3 linked regions of the Homo sapiens genome follow. The protein of the gene in region 1 purifies or fractionates together with the protein of each later gene. This does not show direct contact. Each region holds a gene or a part of one and is shown on either strand. Other genes may lie near its edges.

The links.
Region 2: the proteins of SHISA6 (region 1) and KLHL18 purify together in Homo sapiens (affinity purification with mass spectrometry; one large-scale study listed by BioGRID and IntAct). This does not show direct contact.
Region 3: the proteins of SHISA6 (region 1) and PTER purify together in Homo sapiens (affinity purification with mass spectrometry; one large-scale study listed by BioGRID and IntAct). This does not show direct contact.

What each region holds. Positions count from the first base shown.
Region 1 is NC_000017.11:11,239,713-11,243,312, reverse strand, and holds the start of SHISA6 (protein shisa-6 isoform 1 precursor), read right to left. Parts: upstream 2,101-3,600; 5' UTR 1,891-2,100; coding exon 1,253-1,890; intron 1-1,252. UniProt on the Homo sapiens protein: Involved in maintenance of high-frequency synaptic transmission at hippocampal CA3-CA1 synapses.
Region 2 is NC_000003.12:47,344,505-47,347,418, forward strand, and holds the end of KLHL18 (kelch-like protein 18), read left to right. Parts: 3' UTR 1-2,312; downstream 2,313-2,914. UniProt on the Homo sapiens protein: Substrate-specific adapter of a BCR (BTB-CUL3-RBX1) E3 ubiquitin-protein ligase complex required for mitotic progression and cytokinesis.
Region 3 is NC_000010.11:16,439,970-16,443,696, reverse strand, and holds part of PTER (N-acetyltaurine hydrolase), read right to left. Parts: intron 1-3,727. UniProt on the Homo sapiens protein: N-acetyltaurine hydrolase that regulates feeding by catalyzing the hydrolysis of N-acetyltaurine into taurine and acetate. N-acetyltaurine has anorexigenic and anti-obesity effects that are dependent on GFRAL receptor and GDF15.

The sequences.
Region 1 (3,600 bases):
GAAAAAAAAAATCAGCTCTTTTAACATGCCTAGAAATTTCTATCTGCCTTTCTCTCTCTTCAGCAAGGCAGGGGTGATTAATGTGCACAGCAGCGAGGAAGGCGGTTTTCAGGTGGTAAGAATAACAAGCAGGACGCAGAGAAGAGCTCAAGGTGAATGGGTCAGTGTGGGGGCCTGCAGGACTGACTGACAAGCAGTGGTCTGGGGGGTGCTCATGGTGACTAGGGCAGTGCCCACACCATGCAACAGAAATGGAGGCATCTCCCGGGGCAGGGTTTGTTCCCTGAGAGGACTCTTGCACCATGTCCAGCCATCCATCAACATGAGGGGACAGGAAGCCGAGCTAACTCTGCATCCTCTGGGTGTGTCATTCCTAGAGTTCTAAGGGGAGGCTGGGTTTCTGTCATCCCCTTGGCTTTGACTTCCCCAAGGGCTCACTGGGGGGCAAGATGGTGCGTCGGGGCAGCATTCAGCGTGCAACCAGGGACTGCCATAGTTTGAGCTCTTGGCGTAAGTTTTGGTAGGAGGCAGCTCCCACTGTCTTTCGAACGTAAGCAGTGAAAGATGCCCCACCAGGTTTAACACAGGCGAGTACTGTTAACTCAGAGTTCTGCCTACAGGGTTTCAAAGAACGAGTCCTCTAGTCTCAGCAGGAAAGATAAACATCCCACTCCGCAGGATGCAATGAGGAGACACCATCTGTGCTTGGTCAACATGGAATGGAGAAATCTTTATCCCTACTTCCGGCAGGAGGCATCCTTTCTATAAAACCCCAATTCCTAATGTACGAGAACATCTCAGTTGACCCTAAGCCACTTGGTACCGCTTTCAGTAAGGTTCCAACATTGGTCAGTTTCCTATATTGAAGATGACACTCTGATTTGACTCAAAAAACTAAATGCCATTAAGAACCTACACCAAAGTGCCCTCATGCCAGGAAAGCAGAACCCTGGATCCTCATCCACGATTACAGAATTTGTAACATTCTTACACTTGGAACTTCATGCACTCAACCAATTCTTACTCTGCCTTGTAAATCCCCCTACCACCAAAGCATGCATTCCCGGTTCTGAAGAAATGGAGGAGGGGGCACAAGAAGACCCTGATTTATTGCATGCAAAAGGAGCGATGGTGGAAATGACTAGAGGGCCTGGGGAGGTGTGATGATGCCGAGAGTGAAGAGGACAGGGGAAGCAAGCTGAGAGGGTGAGGCCGCGGGGAGACCGGGGCGCGCGGCACGCGGCGCTCTCACCTGTGGATGTTCATCTCCCGTGGAGGGCGGTGGGCCTTGTCGTAGGAGACCTTGGCGAAGACGCCGGCCACGATGACGAAGGCGATCACCCCGCAGGTGATGTAGACGGTGAAGTTGGTCTTGTCCTTCTCCGGGTCGTACTTGTTCTCGGGCCCCGGCGACACCACCTTGGTGCTGGGCGTCTGTACCCACACCGGGCTCTGGTAGTTGGTGCACTGGCGCTGGTCCAGCTTCTCGTGGCGCTTCTTGCAGCAGAAGCGGTAGTAGCAGGTACCGCAGCAGTACAGGTAGCCGCTCTCGCTGTTGTTACACTCGAACTCCTTGTCGTACTGGCCGCTCACGTCGTAGTAGCCCCAGCACGTCTCGTAGGTGACGGCCGCGCTGGCCGCCGCCGCCACAGCCGCCGCGGGCTGCCCCCGCCGGCTTCCCGCCTCCGGGATTCCGGGCGCCCGGGCGGTGCCGTTCAGCTCGCGGCCGCCCCGTGCCAGGGCGCCCCCGGCCCTCCGGCCCCCGACGGCAGCGCCGCCTGCACTCAGGGTCCGGTTGGCGGCGCGGCCGCGGGCTCCGTGGACGCTGGGCAGCAGGTCCAGGGACTCCAGCGAGAGCAGCAGCAGCAGCAGGAGGCGCCGCAGCGCCATGGCGGGGCCGGGCGGGAGGGCGCGGGGAGGCTTCCGCGGCAGGCCGCTCCCCCGGCGGGCCGGGCTCGGAGGACCCGCCGCGCGGGCCGGGCTGGAGGCGCTGAGCGGTCAGCGGCTCCGGGGCGATGGCGCCATCGAGGCGCGGGCGGCAGTGGCGGCGGCGGCGCGCGGTGCGCACGGACCGGCCCGGCGCGGGCTGCTCGGGCTCTCAGGCTGCGCGCCGGCTCCGCGCTCCCCCTGCGGGCTCGGCGCGCCTCCTGGGCAGCCCCATCCCCCGCCGGCGGTGACTGCGGCCCCGCGCGCGGCTCGGCTCAGGCAGGACCCGAAGCGCGGCTCCGGGCGGCGGCGGCGGCGGCGGCGGCGTGGTCCCGTCCGGGCGGGTCCTGCGGGACAAGACGGGGAGCCGGTCACGGGGTGGGGCGACTGGCGCTCCGGGAGCAGGAGGAGAACCGCGGGCAGGCGGGCGGGGAGGGTGCGCGCAGCCCTCGAGGAGAGAGACTCGGAGCCGGGAGGGGCGTAGAGCCCGCTCCCAAGACGGGGTCCCGCGGCCCTGCGCGCCTGGAACCGAGAGCGCACGGGCCGCCCCTCCAGGCGCAGCTCGGCCGCCCGGGTCCCCCAGCCGCCCGGCCCCGCAGCGCGCTCCCGCCGCAGGCTGGCTCCCTGGGACGGAGCCGGTTGAGGCTGGGGTCCGGCGGCGAGCCGGGAGAGCGCGCGGCGGCTGGACCTCACTCACTCACCATGCCCGGCTGCGACTGCAGAGGCGGCGGCGGCGGCGGCGGCGGCGGCGGCGGGGCGAGGCGGGAACGCAGCTGCCGGAGCGAGCGAGCGGAGAGCCGCCGGCTCGCCGCCTGCACTAGTGCCGGAACGTGTGCGAGAGTGAGCGAGGGAGACACACGCACTCACACACCCGCACACACGGGAGCGCCGCGAGGGGAGGGGGGACAGGGGAGGGGAGGGCAGCCGCTCTCCGCCACCCACGTTTGCACGCCCGGGCGCTCAGGGTGCGGGGCGGGGGGGACTCCTTTTCGCTTCTTCCGGATCGCAGCAGTTGAAGCTCCGCGTCACGAAAGCTCCGGACAGCAGTTATTCGACACGGCGAACCCGGCGGGCGAAGAGGGGGCCGGGAGCAGGGCGGAACGTCCGCTCTGCAGCCGGCCCGCGGCAGGGACTGACCTCCCCTGCCATTGCCTTCTCTAGCCTTCGCGACCAGTCCCCACCCTACCGGAGCCCGGGGCAGCGCGCTGCCTGAGCGGGAGTTGGGGTTTCTGCAAGCCTTTGCCTCTCCCTAGTGGTGATACTCGCAGCCAGGAGAAGAGGTCAAACCCATTGCTACAGGTTCCCAAACTGAGTCCAGGGGTCAAGTGGCTTGTCTGAGGCTGTTGGGCGACCCGTGAGCTGAGCCTACACTCTCTTCCCCTTGGTCACTCTTTCCCCAACCCCGTACCCACTACGCATAAAGGCGCTAGACAGCCCCAGGACTGGATGGCAACTCTTTGCTATACTTTTTTTTTTCCCCGCGGAGCCTCGAGGCCATTAGAAAGCTATCTGAACCTCTGAGACTCAGCTTTGTAACCCCTGTGTTGAAATCTCTGTGCTGCAGCTCCTATGGGAGGTGAGGAGGATGGGGGTGCAGGGCGGGGGTGCTTTCCGGGGTAGTTGCGTGTCTGGGTCTGTGGAAAGGAGGCCTGAGTCTAACTTTCACAGCTACGA
Region 2 (2,914 bases), on another chromosome or scaffold:
CTGGGTAAGCAGGGAGAAGAGAAGTTTTCCCCATGTCTAATTTTGGGATTTCAGTGAGGCCTTTTGATCTGTCCAGGAGAACAGAAGGGAAAAAAAGATACTTGAAAGAAACTGAAGGAAATTTAAACAAAGAAACACTTGAAAGAAACTGGAAAGAAAAATAATTTTTTTATGTGAACAAATTTTGCAAGAAGAAAAAAGCATAAAAGACACTAACGGCAAATCTATGTTTAAATGGAAAATCGTCTAACTGGAGAAGGGCGGTATCCACCCCACATTCGGATCCCAGGGTCCTGAGGCCTCGCATTGAGCTGGGGGTTCCCTCTGAGCCCCAGTGTGTGTGGAATCAGTGCACTCTTGACTGGGCCTGTAGTAAGGTGCTCATGGGGTTTGTCTTCTCACCCACCATCAGAGGACTTTTAAAATCATAGGCGTAGAGAGTTAGGCTATCTGCTGAATTACTGCCACTCTTCTTGGTGGGGGCTCCTAGCTGTGGCTGGGGGCTCCAGGCGCCCCTGTGATTACCTCCTACTGCCACCATGGCGCTCATTCAGATTCCCCACTCTCACTAACATTGCTTCCTTTTTTGACCAGCAGGAAACAGCAGGTCTGGCCAGATTCTCACTTGCCCATCAATCTCGTTCTTGGATGATTTCCCTCATTGTGATGCTTCTGGGGCACGTTGACCATATGCACCTCTAGAACCTAACCAGGGCTTCCTTCTACCAGCTGTGGGCGGGCTTGGTCTGGTAACCTTGTCTGCTCTGCCATTCCACTGCTCCTCCATCCACTCGCCAATCCCAAGAGTCTGGCCTCCCTCCAGCCCTGGGCAGACTGACCAGCAAGGTGGACCTTTACATTCAAGCACAGCTGGCTTTTATGACATAAAGAACTAAAGGCCGAAAGAATCTCTTGCTGCTGCAAAGAACAGATTTTATATTTCTTCCTCTAATCTTGGCAAATGACCTTTACCTTTTGGAAAGATTTCATATTGCTTCCTCCTCCCTGGATAGGACCTAATGTAGCACAGCGGGACTCAAAGAGGAGGACATTTTCTCTTGCCAGTGCACTGGGCAGTGGGGCTGTCCTTCAACTGCTGCTGCCAAAATTGGTTTTCTAAAATTCTTCCAGTAGAGACTAAAAGAAGATTCAATTCCTGTAACCCAAGACTGAGTCTTAGGGCTCCAGTCTCCACCTGCTTGGTTTCCTATCCTTTGCTGCCTGCCTGGGGTGGCCTGGAAGCCTGTTCAGAAAGGCACAATGTGGAGCCTGGGGTGTCTCCCCCACCCCAGGACCGTCAGGTTTACCAGTGTGTGCAATCGCCATGTATTCAGAGGGAAGTACCTTTGTTACCTACAACTTAGGAGCTAGGCCTCTGCTACAAGCACTTGAAAATGATATTTTTATTTTTAACGTCTCAACAATCTGATATCGGATGTCGTTTAACCTGGGCTCGTGGTAGGGCTCCAGCATTTCTCCCTCCTTCCTGGTTTGCCTGTAGGGGTAGACTCGGAAGGTGGGTGGGGTGTGCATTTCCTGTTAGGAGTGTATCAGTGCTTGTCTTATTATAAGCCCCTTTCTTTTGTGAATTTGAAGTAGCACCAACAAGCCTGGATTGTGAAGGTATTAAGAATCGGTCTGTGGGCTACTGAGTGGGTCCTTAGGATACTGGCCCAGATTTTGCCACTGGGTATGGCAGATCATTTTCTACCATGGCCTGCTGCTCTTGTAGTGGACTTCCTGAGTCCAATCCCACCTCCTGGTGTAGAATTTACACTGCTGCACCTGAGGTCGATGTTTCAAAGTAAGATCAAGCCAGTGTTTTGATCTGGGCTCTGAGCACAAGTCAGGAAACACCAACATATTCACACTCTCCCAGTAGGTTCCTCAGTCCGATGGTGAATGGCTATTCGTAAATGGCTGGTCTGGCTCTTTGGTGTTGGAGCCTTTCCAATAGCCCCATGAAAAGAAGCATCACCCAAGGATATTGTAAAAAGGATGTAACAAGGAGATAGGGTAGACATTGTACTCAGTGGGCCTTGGGGCCTAGCCCAGCTCTGAGCAGAGGACTGTGGCATTCACTGTCCTTGAGTGTTTCACCTTCTTGGATAACACACGGGCCTTCTCTTCTGGATTTCATCAGAGATTACAGCCAGATGGGGGCTGAAGACCATCCTCTTGACCACAGAGGTGTGACTGTGGGAATTCCTCCCAATTTATGGTTTCCCAGAAAATCTTAGTTCCTTTTATTTATAGAATGCATGTCTTTTGTGTTAAGAAACCAAAGAGAAATAAAGAGAACACTCCTAATAGCTCTTGTCCTTTCTTGGTTTATTTCTCAGATATTAGAAGTACATGTTTGTTTTTTAATTGTGATTCACTGAAAAAAATATATTGGACAAAATGGGAATATTTCTGTGAATATAAGGGAAAAGCCAGATGTACAGCAAAAGTAGTCTTTGGAGAGATTTATTTTATGAGAGTCACTTCTGGTGAAAAATATGCAAAGACTTCATTTGCACTTTGGGACTGCATATTGGTGCCTGTCCTGATCGCCCCTACTCTCGGATTTCCCCTTTTCTCCATTCACTGCCCTAAAACTCCAGAGTTTCCCAGTGGAATGTGGCTGCCTGTTGACTGCCTGGAATCAGCATCTCCAGCTCCTTTTTTATGCTCTAGGCGAGAGGTGCTTTAACTTTGGTGCACATAAAAGTCACTGGAAAATGTTTAAACCACAGATCCGTTCCTAAGTCCCTCTCTAGAGACAGGTTCCCTAGGGCTGGGGTGCAGCTCAGCATTCTGGCGTGAGCAAGTTTCCTTGGTGATTTGCATGCTCTTCAGTGTGAGAACTATACTCCCATCTTCAGTTTCACTTCCCCAAATACAGCCGCATTCCAGATCTGCTCTTCCAAGA
Region 3 (3,727 bases), on another chromosome or scaffold:
TGATTATGTACATTTTTTTCTTAACTGCTTGATGAACTCTATCCAAGTCATTTAATAATGTTGCTTCCCTTTTTACCTAATTACATAAATGTTTAAAGTCACGAGCATTAAGCTCTCCTCCAAGTAATGTTAGTTAAAAAGAAGTTCCTGAACTGAGGAGATTCTCCAAAGATGTGTAGTCATCACTTGGAAGGTCAAATTTAACAATCAAAGAAAATAACTCCAAAAACAGTAGCTTCCAAACAGACCATTACTATTGCAGTGGAGCATTTTGGGCTCAGTTGTATCTCCCTGCAAAATTTGTCTGTTGCAGCCCGAACCCTCAGCACCTTAGGATGTGGTTGTATTTGCAGATAGTCTTTACAGAAGTAATTAAGTTAAAAGGGGGTTGTTAGGGTAGGTCTCAATCCAATAGGACTGGTGTCCCTATAAAAGATCAATACCCAGACATGCATAAAAGGGAAGACGGCCATCCACAAGCCAAAGAGAGAGACCTCAGAAGAGGCCAACACTGCTGACACCTTGATCTGGGACTTCCAGCTGCCAGAGCTGTGAGAAAATAAATGTCTGTTGTTAAAGCCACCCAGTTTGTGGTATTTTGTGATGGCAGCCCTAGGAAGACAAACATAGTGAGTAATCAAGGTCATCTAATCTAAGCTACAGAAATGGCCCTTAATTACACCTGGGGGCTCTACATTTTATTTCATCTTATTTTTATTGTTTTTGAGACAGAGTATCACTCTGTCACCCAGGCTGGTATGCAGTGGCACAATCTTGGCTCACTGCAACCTTCGCCTCCCGGGTTCAGGCGATTCTCCTGCCTCAACCTCCTGAGTAGCTGGACTTACAGACGTATGCCTGGCTAATTTTTGTATTTTTAGTAGAGATGGGGTTTCGCCATGTTGGCCAGGCTGGTATCGAACTCTTGACCTCAAGTGGTCCGCCTGCCTTGGTCTCCCAAAGTGCTAGGATTACAGGCATGAGACACCACGCCTGGCCTGCAGGCTCTGAATTTATAAAGTGAGAAGAAAATCTGTCAAAAGAGCTGGCCAGGCACATGCAAGTCAACCTAATTCTTATTTACTTATTTAATAGAGATGGGAGTCTCACTGTTGCCCAGGCTGGTCTTGAACTCCTGAGCTCAAGCAATCCTCCCGCCTTGGCCTCCCAAAGTGCCGGGATTACAGCATGAGCCACCGTGCATGGCCAACCTAACACTTTTAAACAAATTCTGATGGCAATCAGATGACAGCTCAGGGCATGGGCTCTGACCAAATAAATCTTTATTTCAATTTCTCAATTACATGGTCGGGCTTTATCTGTCCTCCAAACTGTTAGAGAGCAAGACTGATAACATCTAACCTTTCAGATATGCAAGAATGTAGGAGATGAGACATGTCGAATTGTCAAGGCATAAACATGAGATAACTTTGAGAATTTATGAAAATTTAAAAAATGTTTTTAAAAATCAACAAACAAATAATTTGGAAAATAGTAAGCCACATCAGGAAAGAAATTTTGTGGGTACACAGTAACACCAAGGATTTTGTGGTCGCAATGGGCTTTCAGTTACATAAAAGAGCACGAAATTAACAATATTTACCAATATTCTCTTCAAAGTGCTCTTCACACACCAAATAATTACCCAATTAAGCCACTGCAAGATAAGTTGCTATTACTCTGGATTTAGTAAAAAGAACTAATAATTACTCTTTTAACAGTTTCTGTGAAGAAAGAACTCAGTGTTTACCATACACAAGTGAGCACATCCCACCCGTTTAATAAGTAGGGAACAGGAAAAAAAAAAAGGCTGATTATGTAAGTGAATTCAGTGGAGGACACAGATGACTAAGAACCACAACCTGTGAAAACAGAGAATTTAATATGTAAAGCAGAGACCACCATTGGCAAAAGGCTATTTATGAATACTGCCAATACTTAGCATTGCCAGCTGACAATAGAAGATCTTCGGTCATGCCCCGAACAACATAATTCATCACACTAGTGCTTGGGCCAGTCACGTCCAAGCAATTTATCATCATCATATCACTCGCCTGACTATAATAAGGGGAGAACTTTGATTGTTAACCTCTAGGGAGACTGGATTTATAGCCAGTGTCCCCTAAGAATGCAGCACAGCTCTGTCCAAAGCACAATGCTCCCGGCTTGCCTTCTGTTTAACTCAGAATAAAAGAGTGAACACACTGCCCCTAGGACATTAACAGCAAAACCTAAGTCTGATACTCTTAGATCCGAAATCAGATAGCCAGGAAATCATATTTAAAATACTCTTTGAAGCTGCCTGAAAAAAAACGTATTAGTCAATGGTAAGTACGGATGATTCATTTCAAATGTCCTTCAGTGACAAAATAATTTCTGAAATGTATCCACTGATAACTGCATTTGGGAAGAATCATCTTTTCACAACTCACCCACGAACATTCCTCTGTATTGGAAAACTTGGAAGTGCACTGAAAATTGTTAAAAATATATAAATTGTGTTTTTCAAAGTAAAAATGAAAGCCTTGATTCTTATCCCTTCCAGGCATACAGCCTTTACCTATTTTACACTTTAACATGGTCTGCCCTTACAGAATGCAATTAAACATCTAAACGCCATTTTTGCCACTCTTGATTAAAATCACAAAGCAGACTGGAGCATGATGGGAACAGCACACCTGCCATCTCCCACACAGTAAAAGGAGCATGATTCATAGGACAAGCCTCTTTCAGGGCCCTCCCCACAGCTCCCAAGGTATCTGGTAAACCAGAGCCAGAAATCCCCGCATACATGCAGCTTATCTGATAATATTCATTACGCAGGCTTGACCAGGCTAGGCCACAGTAACACTCAAATCCCCGAATCTCAGGGTCTGACCACAACAAAAGTTTATTTCTAGCTCATCGAATACGTCTAACACAGGAAGGCAGGGGGCTCCGCTCACTGTCCTCTATGACCCAGGCTGAGACCACTGCCTCTATCTGGATGGTCACTGCGGCAGAGGGAAAGTGATTGTGACAAATCTTTCACTGGCTTTTAACACAGTTTTACCTGGAAGTGACACAGGTCACTCCACTTGCGTTTCGTTAGCCAAACAAGTCACGTGGACATACCTGCCTGGAAGGAGACAGGGAAATGGCTAACATTCACAGCTCTCACGCTGAGCAGGCACAGAGGTATTTGTACTCAGGTGGTTATTGTTTTGACAAAATAGGTACAACCACAGAGCCAGTTTATGCCAAATGGAACCAGATATTTTATTTTTCTTATTCTTTTTTCTTTTTCTTTTTTTTAAGAGATGATGTCTATGAATGAGAAGCCTTTTGTTATAAAAGTGTTATTAAGGGCCGGGCGTGGTGGCTCATGCCGGGAGGCTGAGGCAGGTGGATCACCTGAGGTCAGGAGTTCAAGAGCAGCCTGATCAACATGATGAAACCCCGTCTCTACCAAAAATACAAAAAAATTAGCTGGGCGTGGTGGTGCATGCCTATATTTCCAGCTAGTTGGGAGGCTGATGCAGGAGAATCACTTAAACCTGGGAGGCAGAGGTTGCAGTGAGTCAAGATAGGGCCACTGCACTCCAGTCTGGGCAATAGAGTGAGACCCTGCCACAAAAAAAAAAAAAAAATCTTGTTAGGAAAACCTGGACCACTGAAAATACACTAGAAACAACAGCTAAAGAAAACAGAACAAAGCCACATTTGATGTATGAAAATATATTCAACA